5 separate regions of the Homo sapiens genome follow, and regions 1, 2, 3 and 5 are each linked to region 4. Evidence: fine-mapped expression QTL. A gene starts in region 4. Each other region holds a variant in brackets. All regions are shown on one strand. Distances are between the middles of the regions.

What was found.
Region 1: its variant is fine-mapped to the expression of SORL1 in whole blood (INTERVAL, PIP 0.99).
Region 2: its variant is fine-mapped to the expression of SORL1 in whole blood (TOPMed, PIP above 0.99).
Region 3: its variant is fine-mapped to the expression of SORL1 in whole blood (TOPMed, PIP 0.98).
Region 5: its variant is fine-mapped to the expression of SORL1 in whole blood (TOPMed, PIP above 0.99).

The regions. Positions count from the first base shown.
Region 1 is chr11:121,694,820-121,699,925 of GRCh38, forward strand. No RefSeq gene overlaps it. Among named protein-coding and RNA genes, the nearest start is that of SORL1-AS1, 240 kb to the left of the region's middle. The variant AGTGT/A (reference allele first, on the strand shown) is at 2,475.
Region 2 is chr11:121,608,509-121,613,614 of GRCh38, forward strand. SORL1 (sortilin related receptor 1) reads left to right here. Exons shown (of 48, transcript NM_003105.6): 39 at 2,568-2,650; 40 at 4,228-4,324. Among named protein-coding and RNA genes, the nearest start is that of SORL1-AS1, 160 kb to the left of the region's middle. The variant G/A (reference allele first, on the strand shown) is at 3,035.
Region 3 is chr11:121,629,879-121,634,984 of GRCh38, forward strand. It overlaps SORL1 (sortilin related receptor 1), which reads left to right. Exons shown (of 48, transcript NM_003105.6): 48 at 1-3,885. Among named protein-coding and RNA genes, the nearest start is that of SORL1-AS1, 180 kb to the left of the region's middle. The variant G/A (reference allele first, on the strand shown) is at 2,475.
Region 4 is chr11:121,449,743-121,454,848 of GRCh38, forward strand. It overlaps SORL1 (sortilin related receptor 1), which reads left to right and starts at 2,572. Exons shown (of 48, transcript NM_003105.6): 1 at 2,572-2,874. The coding sequence starts at 2,590. It overlaps SORL1-AS1 (SORL1 antisense RNA 1), which reads right to left and starts at 3,225. Exons shown (of 3, transcript NR_183636.1): 1 at 2,933-3,225; 2 at 1-157. RefSeq lists enhancers at 1,529-1,588, 2,979-3,168, 3,179-3,228, 3,269-3,338, 3,359-3,408 and silencers at 2,459-2,508, 2,639-2,688, 4,533-4,582.
Region 5 is chr11:121,391,711-121,396,816 of GRCh38, forward strand. No RefSeq gene overlaps it. Among named protein-coding and RNA genes, the nearest start is that of SORL1, 58 kb to the right of the region's middle. The variant T/C (reference allele first, on the strand shown) is at 2,350.

The sequences.
Region 1 (5,106 bases), 250 kb after region 4:
TGTATTTTCCCAGTGCCCTGATGTTGTGTTTTCAATGTGGGGATGGAGCCTGTATTGATAAAGAGATCTTACTACCCCCATTCAAAGTACCAGAGAATTTGGATATCTCTCACAAGTTTTTATTTTTATTTTTCCAGCCTTTCGAAGGGCTGGAGAGCTGATCCAGTTACCACTCTTACATTTTTCCAGTTATCAGCTCAGAGAGGGCTCATGAAAGAGAGGGAGGGCAGGTAGGGAAAGTGAGAAAAATAACAAGCATTGCCTTCCACATCTAAAATGTTTTAGCTTTGCTTCCCTGCCGGGCTGAGGCTGGGAAGGACAAGCTCGATTAGCTCTAATAAAATCCTCTTCCTACAAGTCTTGATTCTCGGTAACTTTTCTTGGGTGGAGGGGACATGATAGATTCTCTTTAGATTTAAAGCCTCTTGCCCTGTGGGCATCCAATACCAAGACCCTTTCTTTCCCATGCACAGCCCCCTTATCTAGCCTGCTTGAGAAAAATACTTTATTCTTTTTTTTTTTTTGAGATGGAGCCTCGCTCTGTTATCCAGGCTGGAATGCAGTGGTGCGATCTCGGCTAACTGCAACCTCTGCCTCCTGGGTTCAAGGAGTTCTCCTGCCTCAGCCTCCCGAGTAGCTGGGATTACAGGTGCCCGCCACTGCGCATAGCTAATTTTTGTATTTTTAGTAGAGACGGGGTTTCACCGTGTTGACAAGGCTGGTCTTGAACTCCTGATCTCAGGTGATCCACCCGCCTCAGCCTCCTAAAGTGCTGGGATTCCAGGCGTGAGCCACCATGCCTGGCTGAAAAAAATACTTTATTCTTTTTTTTTTTTTTTTTTTTTTTTTTGAGACAGAGTCTCGCTCTGTCACCCAAAGCAGTGGAGAGCAGTGGCATGATCTTGGCTCTGCAAGCTCCGCCTCCCAGGTTCATGCCATTCTTCTGCCTCAGCCTCCCTAGTAGCTGGGACTACAGGCACCTGTTACCATGCCTGGATAATTTTTTTGTATTTTTAGTAGAGACGGTTTCACCGTGTTAGCCAGGATGGTCTCGATCTCCTGACCTTGTGATCTGCCCGCTTCAGCCTCCTAAAGTGCTGGGATTACAGGTGTGAGCCACTGCACCCAGCCAATACTTTACTCTTGACTCTCCATAGCTCTAGTCCCTCCTGCCCAAGCATTGGTGCAGATTATCTGAGGTGATTTGGTTTTGACCTCCCAATGCCTTGTTTCCCTGGGCATCCAGCCCACCTGGGCCTAAGCCCATAAGGTCTTCATAAAATATCCAGGTGGTCTGGCCTGCTGGATATTCCATAAATGGCCCTTAAATAAAGATGGTACCATTGGCTAAAATAATGTACCACGTCAGGGCAGGGAAATTGTGTAAGTGCCAAAAACTTCCCGGCCCACAGGGCGACTACAGCTCTCATCCCTTCTGGAACATACCACCAGCCTAGGGATGGGCTGTGACGAATATTTGGCCTCAGGCAACGCTGGAGCCCAGGGAAAGCTTTAGTTGCATGTGTGTTTTCTCACAGAATTATAAAGCCCAGCAGCTCTCGGTGCCAGAGGCTGCGGAGAGTTTCTGTGTTTTTCGACTATTCATTAGTGATTACATACCCCCCTGAACACCTGCAAGACCAATTCATAAAGCAAGCATTCATGGACTTTGGCAACAGCTTCATGGGAACTGCAGGGTACGGGGTACGGTCATTGTATCTCCAGATAAAAAACATTCTCTTACCAAGGAGGCCTCTGAAAATAGCAGGCTGCAATTTCAGTTCGACACCACGGGGTATTAAAAAGAAAAGTGTTACTTCACCTCGTCTCTTTATAAAGTCAGCACACTGTGAGGCTGTGGCATTCCTCGACAAATCCTCTTTCAGGACCCTTTCGGGAATGAGAAGAGGGGAGTGGTGGGCACTGCATTGATTGTGACGGGGCCAGCCCGGCCGTGGGTACGTGTGGCATGCTCTCCAGCGAGTGACACTGATTTACAGCAGGATAACAGGAAGTGTGGAGCTTGGGTGGCCTGCTGTGTAATTCTGGGTGACAGATTGCCCCTGCCACTTACAAAAACGGTGCTATAATTAATCCAAACAGGCCAACAATAATAAACAACGAAAAAATAATATCTTTATACAAAATATGGGATTGACCTTTAGTATGATTCTTTTTCACCTTAATTTTTTTTTCTTTTGCGTGCTCTCTGTTAAATAACAGAATGGCAGGGGCTGGAAGAGTATGGCTCGGAAAGACAATGCCGGAACATCGTGGCAGCTAAGTCTGAGCTGAATGCGCAGAATGAGAGGTTTACTCAGAAGTCCTGCGAGGACCATTGCACAGACTAGGGAAGCTGAGTCTTGTCTGGGCATCTGAAAACAAATGTATTTTGTCTGTAGAGGCAACATGAAGTTTAATTTGATTCTATCAGATGAGATTGGCCTGCCTAGAGAATTGAGCAGTTTTTCTTG[AGTGT/A]GTGTGTGTGTGTGTGTGTGTGTGTGTGTATGGGGGGGCTCCAACTCTCCCTCTCCCCTCTGCTCTGCCAGTATAGACAGCCTCCAGTGCTCAATTAGCCTCCTGAAGTGCTTCATTCTCTGATAACAGCTTAGACACTAGGAGAAACGGTGTTCACAGTGTGTTTCATCCTCACACGTATAAACACACATAGTCACAAACTCATTTAGGTTAGAAAGGACTTTTAATGGGACATCTGGCTCTCTTCCACTGCTTCTTGTCGAGGCAAAGTAGGTTCCCTTGTTAATATGTATACTCTAGCAATCACACCATGGCTAGGGTCTGTGGCTATATAGAATTATGTTTTGTCTTTTGTTATTGATTCAACTAGTGCAAGGGGGCAAAAGTCAAACCTAAGAAATCATAGTCAGAATTTCCATTTACATGGAAGGAGTGGGGAAGCTTAAATGCTGGGCAAAAAAGGGAAGATGTGGCCAAAAACTCAGTGAAGAGAGGATGATGGTGACAGTGATGACATGATGTATAAATGTAGTAAAAATCTCACTCTTTTTTAGTTGGGGGAGGCAGTAGAGTATAGTGGCTAAGATTATGGATTGTGGAGCTAGATTTCTCGGGTTCAGATCACAGCTTTGCTACTTACTAGCTGTGCGAACTTGGACCCATTTCTTATCTCTCCATTTTTCAGAGTTTAAGGAGCTTCCTCATCTGTAAAACAGCATAATAATAGTTGATTATTTCAGAGGGTTATTGCAAGTATTAAGCAAATTACCATGGGCAAAGCCCTTTAAACAGTGCCCAGCTATGTAAATGTTAACTGTCACCAGTTAAATTATCTAGATCATTGCCTATTGGCAAAGAATTCTGTACATCATCCATTGCATTCTTAGGAATGATCGCTCTACTTCGTGTTTAATAATCACAATTATTAAGCATTTACCGCACGTCAGATATTGTGCATACCCCAACTCTTCTAATACTTACAACAGCTCTCTACAAAGGAGAGTACTGAGATTAGAGAGAGTAATTAGTTCAAGATCACATAGCTAAGAAATAGTAGATTTATAATTCAATCCAGGTCAGCAGGGCTCGTGCCTGTAATCCCAGCACTTTGAGAGGTGGGCAGATCACCTGAGGTCAGGAGGTTGAGACCAGCCTGGCCAACATGGTGAAACCCCCTCTCTACTAAAAATACAAAAATTAGCTGGGTGTAGTGGCAGGTGCCTGTAATCCCAGCTACTTGGGAGGCTGAAGCAGGAGATTCACTTGAACCCAGGAGGCAGAGGTTGCAGTGGGCCAAGATCACACCACTGCACTCCAGCCTGGGTGAAGGAGTGTCTCAAAAAAAAAAAAAAAAAAAAAAAAAAGGAATTCAATCCAGGTCGACTCTGACCACCATATTTTAAATCAACAAGTTGTCCTATCTGTATTTGCCTCTAAAGAGTGAAAAGTAATGACAAATTTTGTATTCCATCTTTTTTTTATGATTGTCTTTAGTGTTCTATTCACTATTTTGAATGTGTGATGTAGGCAATGCTGAAAGTTAGGGAAGCCTTATGTTCATATAGCACTGCTCTAGACAGGTAGACTCAGGGCAGCATGCAGAGGGCATTCATTCTGGAGTCAATCTGCCTGTCACTGCCTCTCTTGATCCCATTACCGCTCAAAATCTCAGTGCCCCCTCAACAAAATGGGAATAATAGAAACTTACTTTGAAGGGCCTTTTCCGCCTTTAAATGAAGTAATATATGTTAAAGACCTGGGATAGGTTTGGCACTTAGTAAATGGTATGTTTTATAACTAGCAGCAATGGTTAACTCCTCAAGGATCTCAATGAGTTATCTTGGGGGAAGTAGAAGCTGATTAATAAAATAGGAAGATTTCACCAGCTGCAGTAATAGTCATAACGTCAGATCCATAAAAATGGTCTATCTACTTCTGTCTCCCAGTATTCATACATAAGCAGTCATTTGAAGCAAGACATTCTTCAAAGAATTCAACCTGTGAAAAAAGTCAGTAAAATCAGGTATCCACTATATCCAGTTTTTCCTAATGGTAGGATATTTTGCTTTGTTAAAGATAATTGCCTCAGCTTTCCAGGGCACTTCCAGTGTGCTTTTGTGGAGGTAGCCATGCTCTATATACTTGAAAAGAGCAACTAGGTTTTGTTAGATAATTCCTTATTTTCTTCATGTCACCTGTTAACTCCAGGCTTGATTCAGCCCCGTCCACAGTGTAGACTCTACGTAGCAGTAATGGAGAAGGTTGTTAGTTACCTAATAATGATGAAACGCTGGATAATTTACCCAGAATAAAAAGCTTGCTCTTTTCTGGATGATCTGGTTAATTATTTGGTTAAATTAGGTTAAAACCTTTTCTGTCGGGGTCTCTAATTATCTGGAAAACCAGGTAACTGTGTCCTTTTAAGAGCTTTTAGACTTGAATTATTCATCGACATAACCCAGCATCCCGGGAAGATTCCCAATTCTTCACCTGCCTTTTTGTGCATAGATTTGGATTGAGACTCTTGAGCTGTTCTATTTACAGCTGCTTGTAGATGCAAAATATTCAAACCATCTCCTTTTTTTTTTTTCCTTTACAAAAGAGAGAACCAACTTTGAGCTGTGAAGA
Region 2 (5,106 bases), 160 kb after region 4:
ATTTTGTGCATGTTCACTTACGGGGTTTTAAAGAAAGCACCATGCTGACTCTTGTTATTCTCCCAGTGGCACTGGCAAACTGTGTGTAGGTGGTTTTTTATCTTGTACTAGAGCTGATATTAGTAATAACTGATGGCTTGCCAAGGGCAGGACACTCTAGAGTGTTCACTGCTTTGCGTACATCAGCTCATCTAATTGAACAGTCAGAACAACTACAAGAAAGGATAAGGAACTGGAATGAGGTTATGTCACTTGTCCCAGGCCACACAATCAGTAAGTGACAGAGCTGGCCCTGGAACCTGATCTGCCTGACTCCAAAGCCTGTGCTCTTAACCACTGTGCTCCACGCTTCTCTCTGGGCTGAGACACATGCGGCCTACTGGACCGCCCTGCTTGCCGGGGGTGGCGGGCTCAGCATCTTGCACGAGTGCCTCATGAGGGCAGAGATCTGGTCTGTTTTTCTCTACTCTATCACGGGCATCTAGTAGAGACTAAGGAAATAATTGATGATTGAGTGAATCGAAGCAGTTAAATGAAGGGTTCTGGCATACTTTGGGAGATGGACTACAACTCATTTTCCAGAGTGGTTTTCCTGACCTTAGCCTTGACACTGGGGACTTGCATTTCTGGACTTCCAGGTATTAAAACCAGATGGACACTGTGGCATGCAATAGGACTGGAAGATTTTACTTTAACCTAAGCCTGTGAGGAATAGGCTCTGGGTCATGGAGAGTCACTATCTAGTCCCCTCTAAAATCTGGAGCCTTTGAGATCAGGGCCCAAGGCGGCCAAACGTAGTGCCACCAGATGGTCTTTGGAGCTGAATGCTTGCAGGTATTAGAGAAAGCCTGCTGAATTCACACTCTCCTAGAATTTTTATTGTTGTATCTCTTCTCTCTACAAAGTCTGTTTCAAAACACTGACCACACATACCAAGAAGGGATGTTGGAAGAGCAACCAAATACATGTACCTTGAATTCCGAAGGCACAAGTCACAACTGCATTTGAAAATCTCAGTGGATGGTTGGTTCTCTTTAACTTCTTTTCTGTGATTTTGATGAATCTCAGCTGCTTGCATATATTTGGGCTAGGATTTGTACAGAAGGCAGCTGTGTGCCACATCCAAAAAGTGTTTGTTGTAAAATATCTGTGACATAGTATCATAATAACGTTTTAAGATAAAGGACAAAGACAGCAGAGGCATCAGCCAGACGCGCCAGGTTAATTGGTGAATGTAGTGGATTAGTAATGACAATGAGAAAAGCCACCATTCCCTGAGCACTTCTTATACACTAAGCACCATGCTATTGTTGCTCGTGAATGGATCCCTTATTAATCCTTATGAATCCTATGAGATAAGTATCCTTATCCTCATTGTGTAGCTGAGGAAATGGGTTTGGAGTGGATTGTGACTTGTCCCTGGTTGCCATGATTATAATTCAAGTCAGCTTTACCATATGCAGCACTCGCACTGTTTTGCTCTGTGTTGGCCGCCTGAAGCTTCCAATATCCTTTCTTCTTCCGGTTATTGCATTTTCCTGAAGCCTAGTTTTATTACATGATTGATCATCTGGACAGACCTCTTCAGACTTTGACACATCTCTTTTGCCACCAAATCTTATCTGCTCCTTTGAGTCTCTCTTGCCCAGTCTATAGAAGGGGCATATGTGTGGAGAGTCTAATATGCAAGTTGTTGTTTAAATAATATTTTCTGATAATATTGATCCATTGAGCTCTTTTAGATCATGCTGGGCCAAGCACTGTCAGCCATCTGGTGGGAAGACCTTCCAGATGACAAGCATGGCGCTCATTGGTTGAACTGAGAGGGGTCTTTTCCTTGGCCACTTCTCCTTGCCCCCTCGACTCTTAGCTTGAGCTCCAGTCTTTTTGAGAGCACCAGTGGTTTCTAGTTGTTTAGTTGGCCATATGTGACGCTATATTGGAAAGGAAGAGAAAGAGAGTATCAGTTGAGTGCTAGGCATCACACATACATTATTTTAGTTAACCTTCCCAGCTCTGTGAAATGCAGATAACATCTCTAGGCTCCAGGAAGATCAGTAACTTGCCTAGGTTACACAGATGCCAGAACAGGAATTCGAACTCAAGTTTGCCAGCTTCCAGAGGCCACATTCTTTCCATTTTGCCACACGCACGTTTACCATTTACGATTTACTCCATTGTCAGCCTTCCGAAAGGACTTGAGATTGGTGGGACTTTGTTAGTGCCAATCAAGATGCCACTCGCAGTGAATGATCCCTGTTCCTTTAAGAACCAGGCTGAAGCTGGGCTGTTTTGGGACCTTTACAAAATGGAACTTTTCTGCCTGACCTAATTGCCAGGATAGCCGACTGAGCCAAGATAGTTTTGTGTTCACCAAGCAACTGTGGACCAACCTTAGCTTCAGGAAAACAGTGGTAAAAAAAGATCGATGAGGAACACTGCCAAAGAAATACCCTTTCTTCCCCGACTGAAAGATGGCTTTGTCCGTTGAGTTGAAAACTATTAAGTCCTGCCTTCCTCACTTTTCATCACGTGGCTTCTGTTTTTGAATTCCTTTTTGTTTTCAGTGATCCCACCACCAGATATCCACATTGACAGCTATGGTGAAAATTATCTAAGCTTCACCCTGACCATGGAGAGTGATATCAAGGTAATGTGGGAATTTCAAGCCAGCAGCTGGATGGGGCTTTATTTTGTATGGGAACTGAAAGGACATAGCACAGTAAGACTGGAAAAAAACAAAAAACAAAAAACAAAAAAAACGAACGGCTAGATCTAGTGAAGCTAAAATACCAGGACTAGGGTGGTTCCTTCCCCCATGAAGAACAACTTGAGTCTTCACATGTAATTATTCTGCCTCAGCCTGGTGCCTTTTTATCCTTAACCATATAATTAAATGGTTCACAGCTACAGTGCAAATAAAGAGTTGGTGTTAACAGAATATGTATGCCCTGTAATTTTCAGCTTTATTGGATTTCCTGGTGCTAAGCGCTAATGCTGAGGCGCTCACAGTGGAAGAACAACCTTCTTGTGG[G/A]AGAGTTGGATACCTTGGAAACATATTCACTTTCCATCCACCTAAGATCTTCCTCTTCCAGCACCGCCATCCCCTCTACTGGCCCTCTGCATAGCCGACTTCATCATTGTTACCTGTGCCCATGTGGTTCCTCAAGCTGAGATCCGCTTTCCATAGTGTTCCTTCTTATCTGTCCCTCCTCACAGCCTCTCCATTGATGAATTTGTGTTGGGACAAGTTGGGACAAGCAACCTTCAGAGTCTTTCTGCCATTTACTTAACTGCCATTTAGTGTCATGACCTTGGCTTCAGAATGGGTTGATATAAGAAATGGCCTCGGCCGGGCATGGTGGCTCACGCCTGTAATCCCAGCACTTTGGGAGGCTGAGATGGGTGGATCACCTGAGGTCGGGAGTTCGAGACCAGCCTGGCCAACATGGTGAAACCCCGTCTCTACTAAAAATACAAAAATTAGCCAGGTGTGGTGGTGCATGCCTGTAATCCCAGCTACTTGGAGGCTGGGGCAGGAGAATCGCTTGAACCTGGGACGCAGAGGCTACAGTGAGTCAAGATCATGCCACTGCAGTCCAGCCTGGGCAACAGAGTGAGACTCTGTCTCAAAAAAAAGAAAAAAAGAAAAGAAAGAAAAAAGAAGTGGGCTTATATGCTTCTTGTCTTGTAGTCTTTGATCTTGAAAATATTTTTGTTCGTTGTCCCATATTTAACGATCTTCAGATCAAATCTTTTTATGAGCTCAGGACTTGGAAAAGGTAGTCTTTCCTGATGGGTGGATGTATTTTCTGTAGTTAGACAATGAGATCTAACCAGCCTGTTTTGTATGGATTGTCTTCTTGGCCTTGACTGCAAGGATTTATCCTTAATTTCCATGGCCTAATTATCTTTCCAGTGTTTCCTCTTTCTACCTTTATTAATTGGTTCTCGTCCTTTTATTCTTCATTCACTTTTTTGTTTCATTGAATCTATAAATTAAATATGGTCTCGTTTGTTTTTAGAAGTAGGTGGAGTACAACTAAATATTAGCTAATGGTAGCACAAGTAGAACCTGTTTAAAATTTTTAAAAAACAACCTGTTCACTGTAAGAATGAGATACCCAAGGAAAGAACAGGAAAGAGGTGTATTTTTAATCCTGCCTTTTGTATTTAGTGTGCCCCATGACTAGCTGTTCATCTAACATGCTTCTTGGTTCTCGGCAGGTGAATGGCTATGTGGTGAACCTTTTCTGGGCATTTGACACCCACAAGCAAGAGAGGAGAACTTTGAACTTCCGAGGAAGCATATTGTCACACAAAGGTAACACTTTGGTGCTGGTCAGTGTGTGTGCAGGAAGGGGTAAGGCTGGACCAATGCTTTCCCGCTGTAGAGCTTGACTGGGGGTGCCAGGGAAGGGGAGGTATTCTCTGGAAGCTGTTCTGTGTTGACAGGTTCTTGTGCATTGAGGATCCTATAAGTGTGCTGCTGATTCTAGGCAGAGGGATTCACTCAGTGGCCCCTCGAGCCCTCCTCCAACCTCATGACCCTTAGTGGAAGTTGGGGGCCATAAGGAGGAAAATTGGACAGAGGCAAGACTAATTCTCTGCAGATGAGTTTTGATTTCCAAAAGAAAGAGTTCTTAGATATAGACAGTTACCTGTCTGTCCTTTCTAGTCTGGTTCACTCTCCCGTTGCTAATGAGAGACAGCAGAAGGCCTTATGCATAACTGGTGTTCAGTAAATACATGTTGACTGGAGAAATGGACAACAAACTAAGGGAGGAGTGGTCCAGTCCCTGTTACGTATGTACCAGCAGCAAGTCTCAGCTAAAATTCCTCTATCTAAGCACGTGCTAAAGGATGGATTTTAATTTATTTCTAAGTGGCGAAAGCTGCCTGTAACTGTTGAGAATGACTTGGGAGCTTCTTCCTGTCTCCTCCTTCTAGGCTGTGAAGCACTTTCAGTCATGTTTTTATTGAGTCCTTGTCATAGCCTTATAAAGTAGAGACTACAAATGTTCTATTGTTACTTTTTTTTTTTAACTGAAAGTCTACAAGGTGCCCGAGGAGGCTGTTATTTTGACTTTTGCACATTGAGCACCT
Region 3 (5,106 bases), 180 kb after region 4:
TTTATTTTTCTAAGACACAGAAATGTATTTAATAAAAACCTCGAGAGAGTGATGGGTGGAACCCCTTCTCCTTGAAAGTGTGTACAGATATTCCATTTTGTTTGGATATAGTTTATAGGAAAGTGTGTGGATGTATTATGGCGGAAGGTTTCTTTATGTTATTTTGTTAATTTATTGGGACTCTGTGTAAGGCCAGGCTTTAGTGGTCATTAGACACCACATGTGTTATGAGCCCCTTACCCATAGGGTTGGGGGTGGGAAGAGAAGCATATTTTTTTGCCATTCCGGAAGCAATCCATTTTTATTCACTTGTGTGTCATGTAATGGTCTTTGGCAGGAGAGAGCACTGAGTCATTGCTGGAGTTCAGTTCAACAGAGCTGCAGCTTGGGAAGCCCTGTAAGCCCACAGCTTCCTCTCTTATATTAATTGATGGAATTTTACTGTATGTGCCTCTGTACAAGATGTAGCTTTGAGAGCTACAAAATGATAACACTGCTTTATTACACACTGGTTTCATTGTCATTGCAAAAACTTACCCTGGTTGTGGGGGAGAGTTCTAGATCTGTGCCATGATCCATACACTGGCTAATAGAGTACATAATTTTTCCATTTTCCATTTTTTGTTTTTACTTACTACTGAAGGATCTCAGATGTAAAATTATGTATTTGGTTTGAGATGGCCACTTATTGTCCTTAAAAATCCATACTGATATATGCAGTCATTTTGAATTGGACAGTGCCTTCTCTTTTTTTTTCTCCTCTTCTTCCATCTCCCTCACCCATGCCCCCACCCAATCTAAAGAGACAGTGCTGTACATTCTCATAGAGATAGAGAAGATCTAAAAAGTTGAGACTACTCAATCCAGTTAACAACAGCAGGAGCACTAGAGTTTGTTCATTTATTCTCTCTGTAAAACAAGCTGTGCTTTTTTTCTTCTGCCTTTAAAATGCCACCCGTGTATTCAAACCATGGCCACTTGATACTTATGTAGAATCCATCGTGGGCTGATGCAAGCCCTTTATTTAGGCTTAGTGTTGTGGGCACCAATGTCGAGCATCGTTGTGACTTGTGCTGTATGATTCTCACTGAAGAATTTCCTTTCAGCCAAGAAGCAGTGAGGTCTGGGAATATTCCAAAGTCATGTCTCTGAATATGTGTCCTTGACGTGCAAGCTTTGTAAAACCCCATCCCCGCTTAGGTGCGAGGCATCACCTTCTCACAAGTGTTTAGTTTCTTTTAACCACAAGTATCATTCTTGGGTGATAATATAGTTTCATTCTACTTAGGGATTGTTTAGAAAACAAAGAAAGAGCCAATTAAATTTTTTAGTTTTTGAAATTTTTATTTATATGTATACTTAGATGAGTATTTTAAGCTGTCGACCTTTAGTTTGCCATACGGGTAGGACTGTATTTCATGTTAACAACTGGTGGTAATGATAAGCCTTCTTCTAGCGTATTTTCTCTTCTTTCCTGTCACTTTCCTAAGTTTTTTTTTTTAAAGACTGGAATTTTTTTTGGCTTTATCTTGTCTTACCGTAGAGATTTGTTCAAAACTCTAAGCCCTACCACCTCCCCTTTAATAAGCTCTTTAAATAGTTGAATCATTAACAACCTGGTGGGAGGCAAGTCATTTAATTGAACCACTAGGAAGTGTATTTTCTTTTCTTTTTCTGCCAACTTTTTGGTGGCATTTGTAAAAGCTGATATAAAAGGCTCTGAGATGTTATTTTCAGTTATTCCATAGGCAAGCCTTTTTACAGAGCATATGTCTCCAGTTGGCAGCTTGAGATATTTCCGAGCATCCGGTTCTAGCTACCAGTGCCTCCCAATGCTTAGTGCACAGTACTGTAGACTGGCCATCACCCCTCTCCTTGGAAAATGCCACTGTGCTGTTTGAAAAAAAGCAGCCTTTTAGGGCTAGAGTATTTTATATAAACAGAAGAGCTAAGTTCCTGAAGACTAAGCTAGATAGCTGCAGCTATATGTAAATTGTATATTTTTATGAACTTTTGAAGCACACACTCCTGTTTCCCTCTGTGTAGCTTTGTGGGGATTTCATGTATATATGCTGTCTGAAAGAATCCAGAGGTTGGAGTGCCAATAGAAAATGAAAACAAATGCCTTGTACTACAGGCAGCCTCTGAAGGTGACCACATAACTGTCTTCACTGTGACCAATCGGAGTCCCTGCTTGCTTGTGAAGAAGGGGCTTTTGTACCTTGTTGGAGATGCCACCTCAGAAGTTCACACTGTGCAGGAAAAAGGTTTTATTCTCTCCTGGCATACATTAGAATGTCAGATGCTTGCATCCATGTGGACCACGATGGGCCTCTAAAAATTGGTGGGCAGGGGGTTTGCTTATGAGTTTTCTCTGGAAACCGATTTTACTCCTGGATGTATTGAATGCCCCTTGAGCTTTATGAGATACGAGTCCACATGGATAAAATGTTAGAGAGTGGAGTTCTACAGAG[G/A]ATTCCAGGAAGAGGCCATGTCTGTGCAGTCCTAGTTCCAGACAGGTGAGAAGCTCCAGGAACTACTGGCTACCTTGACAAGCTGGGTAAATAGTTATCATTCTGGGTAACTGGTTGAAACTCTGACTTTTGGACAAGTAATTCCTGGGGTTCTGTCTTTGGTAGCATCACCAGGGATATTTGGGTGGGACAGACAGAAGACACACAGCTGCCTGTTCTCTCCTGCCCATCATGTTTGGCCCACTAGATGAAGCTGTACTCAGCAATTTAGGGAATGTAACCCTTCTCAGAACTGGCCATTTTCAGGGGAAGCTTGGGAGAGCAATAGTATGGTGAGCCCCTTAGAGATGAGCGCCTACTCCTTCTTGGCGAATGCTGCCTTCAGATGCTTACCAAGTGGTCACTGCATCTAGTAAGATTATATTTCCAGTACACTTCCTTAGGGCAGAAACACCATCCTATCAGGTTTGGTCAGTCCCTTCTTCATGAAGGGAGTCATGGGGAATTCCTGAAAATTTTCTTCCTTCTGCAGACAGTTGGATGAGTCCCTTAGAGAAGGCATCCAGAGACATAACTAAACTGAATATCATCCCATATTGATTTTAGGAATTGACTCTAAAACTCTGTGCAGAATCTTGTGTTGGGATTGTATCTTGACATTCCTGTTGTGTTATTTTTCTTAACTGGAGTGTGTGCTGCCTTTCAGGTACAATTTTTGTGTAATAAAAGCCAGTGCATTAAGTTTATATAGACTACTTTCTATGCAAGACTGAGATATGGAATAGATAGGAAGAGATATGTACTGCTGGGTACATGGACAGTAAGTGTGTTTTCAGATGGAGTACCAGCACCGAAAATGGGTTGAGGGAGGATGGGTTGTATGTATGTTTCTGCCCACTAATTTTGAGCAGCCATATTATGAATTAAATCGTCACAGCCAAGTAATAACCCAAGAATGGTATGAGTTTCATGTGTAATAGCTCAAATGGAATAAGCATGAATGCTGGAGTGGACCATTATCCTCAAATATTCTATGTCACTTCTCATTTAAAGACTCTTGTTATGAACTATTAGAAACTTTAGGCAAAATCAAAAGTATTTGCGGCAAAATAAAGGCCTATTCTACTCTTATTTAAAGTGAAACACTGTATACTTGTTTCTCTCCAAAGCGAAATTAAGTATTTATAATTTCAATTGCCTCGATAAGTTTCCAAGTCACTGAAATCTGCTGAAGGTTTTACTGTATTGTTGCACAACTTTAAGATAATTTTTGTCTCAATGTCAACTTTTTTCACTGAATAAAAATTTAACTGGGTCAAGAAAACACCTCTTTGAAAATCCACTGTCTCTGTGTGTCTCGAGCTGTTCTTTAGAGCGCAATAAAGATGGCTGACGCAGTCTCCAAACCCCATTTGATTGGTCTGTTTTAAACGGATGTTTATTTCATAGATGAGAGAACACCAAGGCCTGGAATAATTTTGTTATTAACAAGCTGGTCTCAGATGGTGGATCCTTGAAGAACACGATGTCTTTGTGTTGGTTGAGGAGGGGGAAGATGTGCTGGCTGTTTTGAAGTAAACAGAATTATTCCGTAGGGACAATGACTAAAGTGGCTCCCTTAAATTTGTAACTACATTTGCTAAGAGACAGTTTGCTAAGAAGGCAATTTTCAAATCTAAGAGACGGAAGCACAGCAGTATAGATGAGCTGTGTGTCTAAGAGCACTTCTATGGGTTTCCATAGACAGTCTTGTGAGGAGTGCTGCGTGTACCTATTATGGGCAGCTGAATGGCCATGGGCCTGTAAGTCAGGATTGGAGGCTGTGGAACTGGGTGGGGGAGGGAGGCAGGTTTTTAAGAATTTAACAGGTCTTCTGGTATGCTGCTTTTGTTTAGACACTGAGCCAGAGCCAAACCCTGAAGTATTATCATCTGGTTTTGTGAATGAAGAAAAGGAGGCATAGAAAAGTGAAGTAATTTAGGAGAAACCAGAGCATAAAAGGCAAAACCAGCCTCCCATCCCAGGTGTTTCTGATCCCAGATCCTCTTCTGAATCACGACGCCACAGCGCCTCATGTCACCATTCAGTATCACAAAGAACACATTAGTCCAACACATTGCACCAAGCGAAATCCCAAGGGGAGACCTACCACCTGGGTGAGCCTCCTTGGTCATGGCCTCATCCTTAGGTTTTCAGGCTTAGATAATTTTTGTCAACACATGATAGTGAATTCATCTCTCATGGCCAAACACACCTTAACCAAACTCAGGATGTTGATATGCAACGTCATAATGTCCATTTGTTAATTCACCCTGGGAAAGTGTCCTGTCCCTTACAATGTCTGCATGACCAGTGCATTCTCTCCCTGTAGGGAGATCTACCCCAGGAGCCAGTCACCACCAGAAGGTTGCTTGGAGAGCAGGGGCAAAGAGTTTTAAAAGTAGGAGGGATCTGGGTTAGCATAGTGGTTGCCCAATAAATACTGAATGAATGAACAAAGACTTGACACTCCACAACAGGAATAATCTACTCCATATAAACTTAGTATTTGAAGCCGTCAGATTGCAACACCCTGGATCCATTTCTAGTTAAAAAGATCTTGCCAATAGGATCTAATACTTTAAGTCCATGC
Region 4 (5,106 bases):
TCTCTATTTTACAGATGAGAAAACTGAAGCTCTGAGGAGGTTTGGCCAAGTCCCCACAGCTAGAAAGTCAACCTTCTGACTCAGAATTCAGCGTGTCTTCCACTGCGTTCTGTAGTTGTGCAGCAGGCACAGTCTTGGGGGGTTGCTGATTATCTACCTGAGAATGGTTTGGAATGTAGATAATGATTAGATAGGAGGGCTTGCAAGGAGTTAATTAACCATGTTTGAATATTCTTACCAATTCTCTAGCATTCAAGTTGCAAATCAACATCAAAATGAGCAAGTAGCTGGCCCTGCCCTACTAGTCCTTCTGTGCAAGGGGCCATCTGAACCTTAAGCCAGCAGTTTGTGTGGGCAAACAGATGCCCATCTTCAAATCCACACTTAGGAGACTCCTGTCTCTGTTTTCTGCTGGGACTCTGACACTTGCTCTTGCAGAGAAGGTTCTCATTAAATATATGTTGGAAAAACCCCAATAATTGAATCATCTACAGGATGTTCTCACTTTAGCCATATTCCCTTCATTTTCCTTTGAGGGCTAAATGGGAGTAGAGATATCTTTGCTGCTGGTCCTGAGAGACCATGGGGTTGTCCATTCCTGGTAAGGTGATGCTGACCAGACAGAGCTGATCTAGATGAGGGGTGGGAGGTGACAGTGGTTCAGTGGCTTTCTTGGAGGATGCATGATTGTTTGAATTATTATTTTTAATTGACATATATAAGTATATAATAAATATATATGTTATATATATGAGTTAGAGCTGAATTGCACAATATGAGCAAGGCGTTCCTCTCAGCTTCAAAACCAGCTCTGGGTTGTAAACAAGCTACCACTTCCTCAATCCCTCTGAAATAACATCAAAGTTGGGGTGCAGGATGAAGGCACCCCAATAATACCACACTGGGGAAAGTGTGGTATTTTGATACCTGTATACAATGTATAATGAACAAAGCAGGGTGGTTAACATAGAGAATGCATGATTTGCTTGGTGGGGAGAACTGGATGGTTCTGTAATTATGTTGAGATGGACAGAAAGACATCATCTGACTTGGGGAGAAAATCGGGTGTGGGAGGAGGTGGGAGAGTGCAGAACCTGAGGCAGAGGTCCCCAGCAAGTCTGGCATGGGGTAGGGTAGGGTGGTTGAATACTGGCTTCAGGGAGATGAGGCAAGCTGGCCTGACTCTGGCAGGTTGTCAGTGGTAGTCCTAGGTAGAGGAGGGGGCTTTGCTAAGCTACCTGAAAAGTACTAGAGTGGGCCGGGGTAGGAATCGGGCTACCGTGGCTTGTCGGAGATGAGGAATGTTTTTAGAAAATTGAACTGACCATCCCTTCCTTCCCCTGAACAGCAGCTTGTATGCAACTATAAAGGTAGTCTCCCTTTCAGCCCTGCTTGCTGTGTCTTTATTCTTATCAAAAACCAGGATCTGAGTTCAGAGGGCAGTGAAACATAAAATGAAATAGGAAAGGTTGCAGTAGTACATAGACTTTGGCTGCTCCCACTAACCTGCAAAAAAAATATTTTCCTTGGGCGTACCTTAGCAGTTCCATGGCAGAAGTTTTATCTCCTGTGGTTCAGAGAGTTTGGCTCGTCAAGCTGAATGTAGGGTTAAAGTGTGTCCTCCCTCCTCTGTGGGTGTTTGCCTAGCTCCTGGCTGTGGGTTGAAGGGACTGGTAAATATGTCTATTTTACTGCTGAGGCAGGGTGGCTCAGTGCTTGGTCACCTTGGAGGGATCATAAGCAAGCCGCCGCTGGGGCCCTGTGCCACGCACAGGTATTCATGCGTGCGTGCAAGCACACCCTGTATAGCTGTGTAATAATTGTCCAGGTGTGGTGCATTCTTTGTCAGATGTACCCTTGTTTTTACTGCCTCTGTGCAGGATGTTTATTTGCTGTGCTTCAGGCTGGGGCACGTAGCTTGATCAAGGGTAGTTTTTGCTGTGGCCCCTGCAAATACGTTGTGGTGCCCAGAGTAGATGAAAAACTGTGAGTTTCCCAATAGAGCGGGTTCATCTGGACTCTTGTTGGTTGCGTTCTAGGAGCTAATTCTGTGGCTCTGGACTCTTCCCTGGAGGTGGGGATGAGGCCGGGGCCGGGGGGAGGTGGTCTTGTGGCGCTACTGCGGGCTGTGCACTCAGGAAAGTGGCCACGGTTTAGGACGACCTCGACACGACCCTGTATAGGACGCAACTAACTCCAGAGAAAACGAGCGAGCCCCATGCAACTCTTCATTCCTGCAGGGAGAACAAGGAGGTGTGCCCGCCAGGGAAGGGACGCACCCCCACCGGCGCTCGCTGCCTTAACTTCCCCATCCCCGCGCCAGGGAGGGGCCGGAGTCGCCGCCGAGGCCGCCGAGCGCAGAAAGTGCGCGAAAGGGACGCGCTGCGAGCCTCACACGTGACGGCGCCGCGCCGAACCGAGCGGGACCTGGCGGCAGCGGCGGCGGGCGCAGCGGGGCGGCCCGGAGCGGCGCGGGCGGCCTGGAGCCCCGGGAGCGGCGCGCGCGGTCCCGGCCCAGCGGCTCTCCTGGCCTCGCGCTGCACATTCTCTCCTGGCGGCGGCGCCACCTGCAGTAGCGTTCGCCCGAACATGGCGACACGGAGCAGCAGGAGGGAGTCGCGACTCCCGTTCCTATTCACCCTGGTCGCACTGCTGCCGCCCGGAGCTCTCTGCGAAGTCTGGACGCAGAGGCTGCACGGCGGCAGCGCGCCCTTGCCCCAGGACCGGGGCTTCCTCGTGGTGCAGGGCGACCCGCGCGAGCTGCGGCTGTGGGCGCGCGGGGATGCCAGGGGGGCGAGCCGCGCGGACGAGAAGCCGCTCCGGAGGAAACGGAGCGCTGCCCTGCAGCCCGAGCCCATCAAGGTGTACGGACAGGTGAGCAGTTTTGCAACCCGCCTCCCTCCAGTTTTTTCCTCTCCCTGCACTTCCTCACCCCCGCATCCATCCGTTGCAGTCGCCTCCTAGGTGCAGGCACCACTGGGGACTTCCCGGCTTGCATTTGTTTTTTTCCTTCACGAGTACAACCGTCAGCACTTGAATCGCATTGATCTTTCCTTCTTCCTGTCGATTTAGTAAACGTATTCCAGGTAACTCGCCGGGTGCAGTGCGTATTACCCCAGGGTGTGTGCAGAGAGATGTAGTTTCCGGCAGGTATAGGAGGGGTGCAGCTTCATTTTACATCTGGATAAAAAACGGGCTTTCTTTAGTGTATCATCAGTTGGCAGTGGAGGCGAGCACCCTGCAGTTGCGGTACACTTACACAGAACAGCACGAGGTGGGGGTTTCCACACTTAGCATTATTAGCACAATAAAAGTGGGCAAACCTGAAAGCTTGTCGACTATCTCTGTACAGTCAGACAAGAGGTGTGTGTATGTGTGTGCGTGTGTAAAGGCTGAATTTTTAATTTTTAATTTTTGGCGAGCGTGTGAGATGCTCTCCATTCCTTCTTCCCCACCCTTCAAGATGCTGACTCTCCCACCCCCGTCAAGATAACTTTATTTTGGAGAGGAATACCCCTCATGGCACTTGGAGATTTGAAAGGACTGCAGGAAATTTGGTGGGCATTATTATTCTATAAGTGATTTATTTCTACCCAGGCAATAGGTTTATTAGATCATAAGTAACGTGAATTTCACTTTTATGGTCAGACTTACTGCGAGGAATTGCAGATGGAGTTTGTAGGTTAGGATCAGCACTGGCAAAATTAATTTGACCGTGTTATTGCCTCATGAGACTCCCAGTCCTGCAGTTAAGATTGACATCAGCAAAAGTATAAGGTCGGTGGGGGAGAAAAAGTAGGACCAGAGGAGGGGGTAAATACACTTGTTTTCTAGAGTCAAATTGTTCCTTTTGAAGTAGAAATTATTAATAAAAGATTACCCTGAGTTCTGCCTTTTCTCACTAATTTCACTTTAGCCATTTCTTCAGGAAATACAGAGTTAAATGTTCAACCCTTGGATCCAGGACGAACCTTGTAAACATATCACCCTATTGTGTCATTTTGTTGGTGAAGAAACTGAAGCGTGGAATGGTGAAGTGACTAGTCCAAGGTCATACCGGGAAGGTGGCCTGCTCTCTAGTTTTTGTCTGCATTGTCTCAGTGACCTTTGCTTGACTGCAGTCACCCTGTCTTTATGCAATGCTGCTGAAATACCTCCTTTCTAAAATAAAATAGATCTGGTATAAAGGGGGAAAGGATGGTGGTGACTGGGTGGGAGCGTTGGATTTCCCTCCACTATTGGTCCCTGGGCAAGAATGTGTGCCCCAGGGCATGTAACTAATGGTGGCCACAGGCTGCAGGAACCTGCATGCTCAGTTCCTCTTGGGCCCAGATCCTTGTCCCCCTGTCCCCACCCCATATGACAAATATGTGTATGAACAAAAAGAAGTCATCAAGGTCCTTGCTCTTAACAGCGACACCAGCATGGGGCTGATGGAGGGTGGGAGAAGGAGGAGGAGTGGCCCACTTCTTCATTGGGCCTCCGCAGTCAGCCCAGCTCTGCTGTGCTCTTGAATCAGCATTCTGGGAACTGGGAGTTGGGGGCTGGTGGGAGACAATCCCTCCCAGTGCTCAGGTCCCCTGAAGCTATAGTTTAGGTTGAGGAAAAAGTTTTCTGGTTTCAAAAATATGTGTACATGTGCCATTTCTTTCTTGGGTTTGGTTTATGAAAAGCTCCAGGGGATGTGGGGCAGGTTGGACATGAACTCTGTTCTCACTGGGAGTGACTCCCAAACCCTGGGCTTTTGAGTTTCTGGGCCAGCCAGATTGAGTTTGGTTCAGCTGAAGGATGGAGAACTAGCAGTCAAACTCATAATGAGGAATTCCTAACCGGAGGGTGAGGGTACAAGGGTGAGATTTTTCTTCTCTGTGGCTGCCTTCCTATGCCATTGTTGCCTCTTGCTCTGAGGTTAATAAGAAGTGGAATTAATTTGAATCTGTAAGGATTTGAGTCAGATAAAAGGAAGAACTTCCCTGTACTGGGCTTTCTGCCACAAGTTCTATCTGGTGCAGACCCTTCAGAATGCAAGCACAGGTTGGTGACTGAAGGGGTTTGAGGTGCCCCTCTTGGAACTCTGGAGTAACTAACATCTATTTGGAATGATCT
Region 5 (5,106 bases), 58 kb before region 4:
TTCAAAGTCGGCAACATAGCATCTTCAGATGGCTTTTGCTCTCTCCCCTCCGCTTCCATCCTCTGTCTTCTCTCACCTGAATCTCTCGCCTCCCTCTTAGAAGGATGCTCCTGATTACATTGAGTCCATCAAGACAATCCAGGGTAACCTCCTCATCTGAAAATATTTAATATAATTGCATCTACAAAGTCCCTTTTCCATGTAAAGTAACATATTTGCAGCTTCCAGGGTTTAGGACACGAGCATTTGGGGGTGGGGGGCGCTTTTCAGCCTACTTCGGCTATCAAGATAAAAACTCAATTTCCCAGCCTCACTTGCAGCTGCGTTTAGAACACATGACCAAGCCCTGGCAATGGATATGAGCCAAAGGGAAGTGTTGTCCTTCTAAGTCTTGCTCTTCGAGGAAAGTACCTGCTATTTGCTGAAACATGAATGAGTGAGCCCTTTGGACTTGGCAGATGAGGCCAGTACCTGGGTGTGGCCCAGCCACAAGGGCCTACGCCCCTGCAGATTTCTTGGAGCAAGGCCACCATAGCAGCTTGGACTTTTACATGATAAAAAGACAAACTTCTGTCTTGTTTAAGATACGTAGACAGAATTATATCCTGCTTAATACATTACTCAGGGAAGACCAGGGAACTGTAATTGACAGAATGTTTTGGGACTTCAACAGTGTTTATTAAAATCTCTTATAGGTATCCTTGTGCTCAAGATAGAGAAAGATGAGTTAAAGCCAAGAATAATTAGGTGGGTTTATAACTGCTTGAGTGACCATAAGGGTGCAGAGTAATGTGTTGGTTTTAATCTCTACAGAGAGGTTTTAATATTATGGCCCTGTTATAATCCATGCTCCGGACAGGTCAAATCACAGCTGAAATACTTAATTTTCTTCCAAGGGCCTCATCTGAAGAAGGCTACAGACATAGATGAGCATGCCAGGGATAGCAATGAAATGATGAGGGGACTGGAAAACATGTCATATAAAGACATGTCAATATAGATACGAGAAGGAATTCAGATATTTAGAAAGCATTTATTAGGTGTAAGTTACAATGCTATGTGAGAAAGGGTAGAATACATGAGGACGCATTTCCTTGCCCTCCTAAGAGATAAGGAGCATTTATATAAATGTATGTGGATATATACAAGGTAACTCACCAGACTTAGCTTGCAGTCGTTTATTAAGGATCTATCTGTGGACCAGGCATGGTGGAGCATGCCTGTTGTTCCAGCTACACGGGAGGATTGTTCCAGCCCAGGAGTTCGAGGCCAGCCTGGGCAACATAGCGAGATGCCCTATCTCTTAAAAAAAAAAAAAAAAAAGGAATCTGTTTGTGGGGGTTTTCTTGTTTTGTTTCTATTTTGTTTATGTTGTGTTTCTCTAGAAAAAAAGTCCCTTTGTCCATCCCTAGGGGATGATGACAATTCAGAAAGATTGGAAACATTGTTTTACTCTGGCAAGAGATCTGATTGAGTTTCTAGGAATTGTGGGGGCTAACAAGTATTAGGGTGTTGCCAAGGATTTACAAACTTTCTAGCCCACCATCAACCATCAAGCTCATTTAGAGATCCATCAAGCCCTTTTATGGCTAAAAAAACAAAGAAACAAAAAAAAGTTAATGAGAAGAATAAGGGCTTTTGAGAGTGCGGCCAAAAAAGGGAATGGGTAGGAAACCAAGAAGCAGATAGGAAAAAAGGACCCTGAGTCTGAGGGTGTCTATTCCTGAGAGCTGGACTCTGGTTGAACCATGGCTCTGTAAGTGCCAGGGGCAGCAGACCCCAAGAAGAAGCATGGTGTGGGGGTGATACATGAGTGTGCTGTGCCTGTCCAGAAACTGTGGGTTCCAGCACCTAGGGCTTTAGAGCCATTCACCAGGCACGAGTGGGCTGCTGGCCCTGTCTGTGCTTCAAGCACTCATCTCCAGACACTCTGGCCACAATTCCCCAGGACCTTCTTGCACACTTGTGGGCCACCATAACTGTGCTTGGTGCTGGCGTAGGATGTGCGCGTGTACTCTGAGCTAGGGATAAAAGGGAGTAAGTATCCCCCTTACCCAAATGATTATAGCTCAGGATAACTTGGGCTTCCCAGCTGCATGGGCATTTGCACTGGCCTTGAAAGCTGCCGCAATTTAGATAAGCATGAGATCTCCACACACACACACACAAAAAACTTGAACAAGTTTTCCTTTATGTTCAAGTTTCCCTTTATGGTTTCTTCTCCCCTTATGTCTGGTTTCTTTTTCTTTCCATGTCCAATTCTCAGGAAAGTTCAAAACAGTTTCCATTTCATGCAGTGGTTAAACAGCAACTTCCTTTGTCCTGCAGTCCTTCCTGTGTCCCCTCTGA[T/C]CCTGACCGCAAAACCACCTGCATTTCTCTCCCTGCCTGAGAAGTCCTTGGTCTTTTGCCTGCCTCCTGGCTATTGTTTCTCCCTTCCATGGTGGGGCAGGGCGGCAGCCTGCATGAAAGATGGGTACAAACAATGCTGTACACCAATCTGGTTTCAAATAAATACCACTTCGAGACCATCGAAAAGTAGTTCACAGGTAGGAAGACTTCTTGGTTCCCAGCTCATGGAGGTGTTCGCTTGTTTACTTGATAGAACTCTGGGGACAGATGACAAAATGGAACATGATCTCTGATTGGCAATGGCTACTCAGAGGCCCCTGTCAGAAATCTGGGCTAAGTTTGCAAGTTGTAGAGGAGCGAGAGTGCACCAAGAGTTAGAAAAATTATCACTCCTTCAATAAAAAAAAAAAAAAGCTCAAATGTTCTTGATGACATCTTTCCTGTCTACAAGTTTTATACTGAATCCTGCTGGTGTTCCACATACACAACTTAATATCTCCCATTGATTGGCTGCTTGCTGTGTTTCAAAGCTTTACATACAACACATGAGGTGGACAGAATCTCTGTTTCACAGAAGGGGAAACTGCAGCTCAGAGCCCTTCAGTAATCTGTGCAGTGTCATTTGGGTTAAGGTGGGAGGCTGGGATTTGAACCCAGATTTGTCTGGTTTCAAAGCGTGTGTTCTTTCCTCAATACTTCGCTAGTAACGTGGTAACAGCAGCAAAAAGAACGTGATCTAAAAAGGAGTTACTTCGAATTTTCCACATTATCCAATGCATTATTGTCCGTATAACCATTTTGCCCCCTTTCACCACTCCATACTGGAATGCTTGGGAGAGCTTTTACCCCAGGCAGCTGGTCCTGGCCCATTTACATGCACACCTAGACAGCTGCAGAGATCCCAAGGGCACACATGTAACTTCCTGTGTCTGGTACTTTGTGCAAAACCCTACCCCTCCCACACAAACTCTGGTAACCTTGGTTTGACAAAGGAGAGTCCATTTAGGGGACAATTGTCAGTGTTCTTCTGAAGAATTGCTCTCCTCCTTAGGGGCAGGAGGGCAAGTACAGATTGCTGTGAACACCTCAATCTTTTCCTGGCCACGTGGAGTATTTGTATACCCAGCACAGGGCAACAAAGGAGTGAAGAGTCCCAGGTCTCATGTAAACTCCTATGTTCTTTTTCTCAAAATGGAGAATTGGGCTTACCATTCAATCCACTGTCTTGTACGCATGACAGAAACCAAGTACATATTTGCGGAATGAGGGAATATTAACTAGGCACCCACAGCACGTGGTGTAAGAGAGCATTCAGGCTGTCTTACAACCTGAGCCAAAATCCAAAGCACCAAAATAGGATGGGTAGCTAAAAAATTGGATCATTGAGGGAGCTGGTTACTTTGTAGCATCATTACAATACTGATGTAATTCTAACCTTCCTTGCTGCAATGGTTCACTTGGGTGCCAAATAAAGAGTCTGTATTGGGTGATTATTAAGGATTCTTTCGCCTGAATTTTATAATAAGTGGAGAAATAAATAGCGTAAATAAAAAGTGTAAATAAGAAAATAGAAATAAAAAGTGTAAATAAAAAATAGGAATAAAAGGTGTAAATAAGTGTAGAAATAAATGCCAATTTTTTAGGAGAAGTAAATGACAAATTTTCTCACCAAGGAAAGTTTTTATTTCCCCCTGAACTAAAGCAGTTTAGGGAATTCGATCTGAACTTCTCATTTGAATTCCTGAATTTTTTTTAAGGCAAACTAGAATAAATATGATTTTAAAACCAAGAAGAAAAATTAAGTCATTTCACAAAATTAGAGCCTTATCATGAGTGACAGATTAATAATGAAACTTCCAAGAGTGCTGAATAAATTGCATTAACTTTGTCACTTCATAACAATAGGACACCAAAGGGGTGATTAAATTTATCTCCCTGACACAAGCGATAACTCCATACCAAAGGTAGTGTTAAATTGTATAGAAAATGGCTTCCTCCCCCTTCCTGTATTAAGATGTTAGGTAATGACACATAAAAGTGATTAATAGATTCCTAAACTGGGGCTTATTGAGCAGCTCAAACTAAACTGAATTTCTTTTTTAAATTAATGTTTATTTTTACAAAGTAATAAATGCACATAGCAAAAAGAGAAAAAAAAGTGAAATGGTAGCAAAAGGACAGACGGAAAATCAGCTGTCCCCTGCCTGCATGCCTTCTGTCCCCAGCCCACTCCCCAGACCTCTTACTTTCCATTTTTAAGCTATTTCTTCTGGTGTTTATTTCTGTACTTGTAAATAATTTGCTTATACAAATTATATCTTGGTGCATCAATTTTAGATATCTATTCGTCTTTCTATTTTGGAAGATGAGAATTTCATGCTCTTATCTCATTTCATCTTTCATTATTATTCATCTCAGCTTTTGCTAATTTGTACTCAGTACTTTACTATTATAGCTGTATAAATGACATTCATTACTATTCATTAATAGTAGTATACTAGTGGTACACTATCAGTGAATTAAGAGTAGGATACTTTTAATTAAGTAGTATAGCTAATAGTATTAGCAGTAGTAGTATTAAGTAGGATACTCTTAAGGAAACTAAAAAGAGTAGTACACTATTATTGTTTCCTTTGTTGTATAACTTTTTGTCTTTCCTAGAGTTGATCATTATTTTGGTTCTTTAAAATGTTCTTACTTCTTTAAATATATGCTCTAAGTTATAGGTAATAGATTAGGTCATAAAACCCTATTGAC